Regions from separate parts of the Homo sapiens genome. Here region 1 is linked to region 2. Evidence: fine-mapped expression QTL. Tissue or cell type: whole blood. Region 2 holds a variant in brackets; the other region holds the start of a gene. All regions are shown on one strand. Distances are between the middles of the regions.

Region 1 (2,500 bases), 250 kb before region 2:
TAGCCATTTTCCCTTGTGACATCTGTGTGCTCCTCCTTGATAATGACGTTTCTTTCATGCTAATTCCACCAGTCTGTAATTCTATTCACTATATCTCCAGCAGCTGGCACAGGGCCTAGCACAGAGGAGATGCTAGGAAAACGTTTATTAAATATGCATAGAACTCTGCAGTCTACCAGCCCCTGTCACTGACAGCTCTGTGAGTTCCTCACAGTCCTGGAACACCTAAAGTCACATCCATCCACTTCTCTCCACCACCTCCCTAATCCAAGCTACCATCGTCCCTCACTCAGAGTGCTTGCTCCTCAACCCATTCTCCATTCAACAGCAGTAACCTTTTCAAAATGCCAATCTAATCACAACACCACCCATGTCAGCTTCTGAGTGGTTTCCCATATGGTTCTTGAAAAACCAGAATTCTTCCTATTACCTACAAAGCCTGCACGGTCTGACTCCTGGCAACCCCTTTAGCTTGTGTCACACAATGGTCCCCCACAAGCTCTCTGTTCCAGCCACAACGGCCTCTTTCAGAACCTGAAATTGGAGGCTGTCTCCATATAGAAAACTCTTCCCTCCCCACTTTGTCAAATCCTTTTTTCTGATCTCAGCTCAATATTCACCTCCTCAGTAAAGGTTCCTTGCCCTGGGGCTAGGTCAGGTCTCCTGTGATATAATCTGGGGTGCCTTGTACCTTTCCGTCTCAATGATCACAACTGCAGTTTTGGATGTTTGATTGAAGGCTGTCATCGCCACGAGACTTGAGTCCTGCTGTATCCCTAGCACAGATTCAACGCTTAGTAAACATTTATTTAATACAAGTATGATATCCATTTTGTAAACGAGAAACAAAGCCTCAGTTCGGGGAAAGACCTTACTGGAAGTCACGCAGAGAGTAGGGCAGAGCCAGGTCGAGTGCAATCAGGGTCTCCGGCCCCCAGGCTCTAAAGTTAAGAAAACCGCGACGTAACTCTGGCGACGGCTTCTCAGGAAGGGCCTCCAGAGACACCAGCGTCCCACAAACAGAGAACCAGCCGCCCCGGCGAGGTGGGCCTAGTTCAAGGCACTCCGTGACTCTGAGCCGAGAAGAGGGGCGGCCCAGCCACACATACACAAGGAATCAGGAAAGGAAAAAGAGGCCAGGAGGCCACACTCACCGCCTCGCCCCACGTTCCGGTACAGCGGAAACGCACCGGAAGTTCTCCAGCTTTGGCGTCTGACTGGAGCGACGGGGGAAGCGGTCCGGCAGAGCCCTGGGTCGCGGGAAGAATGGCCCGTGCCTGCAGGTTCCGCCGGATGCAAGGTTGCCTTTTGTTATTCTTAGTTTCTCGTTTTAGCTTCTGAATTGTGAACAACTTTCATTAACCTATGCATTTTATATCCCCGTCCAGAAACACAGCCACCAGCCATCTTACTTTGGGCTCAAGCAGTCATGGTCACTAAAGCACAGCCAAGGCTTGTACCAGTGGCTACTATTCAGAAGTAGCCAGTCAGGCGCTCGGTCACTGTCTTTGTCAGCCAGTCTCTATCCCGGTCACAGTGTCTCAGCTTCCAGTCACACTCAGCCCTCGGGGAGAGCCTCAGAAACCCAGCCACCAGCCCAGAGAGAACCAGCGTCAGCCTCCGCTGCTGCAGCAGCAGCGGTCGCCACCTCAGTCCCTCTGGCCATTATCACCCCGTGTCCTTCCTGCAGGCCAAGTCCTAACATCTCAGTCAGGCTATCAACGCACTAGGGAAGGAATCTGCCTGTCTTGTTCCTCACTGTTTCCCTGGAACCGAGCACAAAGCCAGGCACAAAAGCTCAGCTGAGTACATATATTATGCATTTAATTAATAATGATGATAATTTGGTATTAATAAATAACTATTTGTGGGTCTAACCCTGCACTATTAATCAGGGTTCCACCAAAGATACAGAGCCAGTAGGAGATCTATATTAAGTGATTTATTGCCAAGAATTGGCTTATGTGATTTTAGGGCAGGCCACTTGGGTATTTCTTTTTTTGAGACGCAATCTCACTCTGTCACCCAGGCTGGAGTGCAATGGCGCTATCTCGGCTCACTGCAACCTCCACCTCCTGGGTTCAAGCCATTCTCCTGCCTCAGCCTCCCAAGTAGCTGGGATTACAGGCGCCCACCACCGTGCCTGGCTAATTTTTGTATTTTTAGTAGAGACGGGGTTTCATCTTGTTGGCCAGGCTGGTTTCGAACTCCTGACCTCAGGTGATCTGCCCACCTTGGCCTCTCAAAGTGCTGGGATTACAGGCATGAGCCACCGTGCCCGGCCCACTTGGGTATTTATAATCCTTGCACTAACCCTTGTAAGGTATGTGTATTCCCAATTTGCAGAAGAGAAAACTGAGGTTCAAAGAGATGTTACACAGCCAGAGAATGGCAGAGCTAGAATGCAAACCAAGGGCTGTCTGTTCTTATCTCTTGTGCTGCTGCTCCTTAGCTTGTCTGTCACATTTCCTCAGTGACAGCTGGACACGCCAATCTGTCT
Region 2 (2,759 bases):
CCCTCTTCTCTCTCTCTCTCTCTCTCTCTCCCTCTCTCATCTGTCTTTCTTTCTTAGAGATAGGGTCTTGCTATGTTGCCCAGGCTGCTTTCAAACTCCTGGGCTCAAATGATCTTCCTGCATGAGTCTCCTGAGTCGTTAAGACTATGGGCATCAGCCACCATGCCCAGCTCCTAATTTTCCATATAACTTATTTAATTGTAGGTTTATAGCATCTAATTTGTAATAATTACTATGTTTACCAAAATTCCTGAAAATTTAACAATCAGCTCTCATAGGCAGGTACAAGCCAGTGCCAGCACACAACCAATCTTGCTTCCTCCTTTTGCCTAATGGTTCAATATGTCAGGGCTCATCTCCCACCTCACCTCCTCCAGGAAGCCCTTCTTAAAGCCTCCAGCCTTTAGAGAGTTCCCTCTCCTGAAATCTTGTAACTTGCAGAGTTTGCACCAATCACTTGGTACTTGGCATTGACACTTTTCTTTGTCTATGTGTGGAATCTGGTGGAGGAGATCTATAAAGAGAGAAAACCAGTCTTTTTCATCTTTGTATCCCTCCAGAGCCTGGACCAATGTGTCATGACCTTGGCAAAAACTCAACAAATGCCTGTGGTGGCTTAATCTGTAAGAACCAGACAGAAAGGTCAGCCCAAATCCTAAATCCAAGTTCTTGAAAATATCTTTGCAGTCAGAGAGACTTGGGTTGAACCCTGCCTCTGCACTTCATCAGCTGTGTGACCTTGGATAACCACTTCACCTTACTGTGCCTCAGTTTCCTCCTCTGTAAAATGGGAATAATGACAATACTAACCTCCTCCGGGCTATAGAGACTAAAATGAGATGAAGCATGTGAAACATAGAACCTGGCATACAGTAAGCACTTGAGAAATGGGAGATTTTCTTTTCATTATCAACCAACAGAGAAGGTGGCAAAGGACGTGAAGCAATTTGCAAAAGATAAAATGTAGGTCATAAACAAACATGATAAATCTCACTAGTAATCAGAAAAAATATCAAATCCTCAGTATGGCAGCAATTGCGACCTATTAAACTAGAAAACTTTTGAAAAAATGACATGCAAGGCTGGCAGAGCTGTGATGGCACCAACAAAAATGTA[C/T]ATCCTGGACACTAGATAAGGTGGGGCTCTCCTTTTGGAATGCAATTTGTTGCAGGAGCCATAAAAATTACGATACTGAGAGTTGAGTCCAATCTCTGTCTCTGGCTGCAAGACTCCATTGCAGTGGTCCCTATACCTATGGCTATGGCCCCTTTGAATAAAGTCTGCCTTACAAAACAAAATCATGATACCAAGAAATTCCATTTTGAAACTCTACTCTGAGATGATGGGTTTATGGATGATTTCTTCCCTTTTTCCAGAAAGTTTCCTAATGTGGTCATATCACTTTTACAATTTAAAGATAATTTAAGGTTGGGTGTGGTGGCTAACATCTGTAATCCCAGCACTTTGGGAGGCTGAGGCAGGCAGATCACTTGAGGCCATGAGTTTGAAACCAGCCTGGCCAGTATGACGAAACCCCATCTCTACTAAAAATACAAAAAAAAATTAGCCAGGCATGGTGGCACATACCTATAGTCCTAGCTACTCTGGAGGCTGAGGCAGGAGAATCACTTGAACCCAGGAGGCAGAGGTTGCAGTGAGCCAAGATCTCGTCACTGCACTCCAGTTTGGGGCACAGAGTGAGCAAGACTCTGTCTCAAAAATAAATAGGCTGGGCCTGGTGGCTCATGCCTGTAATCCCAGCACTTTGGGAGGCCGAGGCAGGCAGATCACCTGAGGTCAGGAGATCGACACCAGCCTGTCCAACATGGTGAAACCCCGTCTCTACTAAAAGTACAAAAATTAGCCGGGCATGGTGGCAGGCACCTGTAATCTCAGCTACTCAGGAGGGTGAGGCAGAAGAATTGCTGAAACCCAGGAGGCAGAGGTTGCAGTGAGCCAAGATTGTGCCATTGCACTCCAGCCTGGGCTGACAACAGCGAGACTCTTGTCTCAAAATAAATAAATAAATAAATAAATAAATTTAAAAGTGATCTGGCATCACTAAGATTCAACAGCCAAATGCATAATTTAAATATGCATCTATATGTAAATAAGCATGCTTAGGAGCTCAAGGCGGGAGAATCCCTTGGTCCTCTTTCTAACACAATAGCCATATATCTAATGTCTCTAGCCATGCTCTGTGAGAGGCAGGCCTCTTACAGCTGGGACATGGAAACTCTGAGAAGGAAGTGAATTGCACAGGTTGCAGAAAAGGGCTCAAACTCTGACCATCAGGTCACAGGACATGATCTTAGGCATGCTCCTCAGAGGTTCACCCTCATCCCAACCCCCAGACTTTTCACCTTGCTGATAAACATGATGAAGGGTGACTCTCCAAAATCTTTTGAGATCAGCTGCCCATACGAGAACCTCTCTATCTTCGCCATGGCTACCAGCTGCCAGAGCTTCTCATCAGACCATGATGCAAACAGCTCCATCTTCCTGTGGGAAGAGCCTGTTAGAATTCATCAACTCCATCACACAAGGTGCCCAGACCTTAGCAATCTGCAGAGGGCACATACTCTTCTCCTGTGGAGGATGCCTGGGTGGAAGATTTCGCTGCTACCTGCCCAATTACCTGGCCTTGCCTGTAGCCATTCTCCTACCTGCTATCACCTTGGCTCCCTCCTCCTTTTCCCAAGGCCCTCCCCTCCAGCCAAGCTCCCCTCTTTACTGCTGCTCAGATGCCCCTGGGTGAT

What was found. PIP is the estimated chance that this variant, and not a neighbour inherited with it, causes the effect.
Region 1: it holds the start of AAR2, and the variant in region 2 is fine-mapped to the expression of AAR2 in whole blood (TOPMed, PIP above 0.99).

What each region holds. Positions count from the first base shown.
Region 1 is chr20:36,235,158-36,237,657 of GRCh38, reverse strand. AAR2 (AAR2 splicing factor) reads right to left here and starts at 1,180. Exons shown (of 4, transcript NM_001271874.2): 1 at 1,155-1,180. It overlaps LOC105372602 (a long non-coding RNA gene), which reads left to right and starts at 1,192. Exons shown (of 3, transcript XR_936695.2): 1 at 1,192-1,300.
Region 2 is chr20:35,987,138-35,989,896 of GRCh38, reverse strand. CNBD2 (cyclic nucleotide binding domain containing 2) reads right to left here. Exons shown (of 12, transcript NM_001365709.1): 7 at 2,364-2,502. Among named protein-coding and RNA genes, the nearest start is that of CNBD2, 20 kb to the right of the region's middle. The variant C/T (reference allele first, on the strand shown) is at 1,117.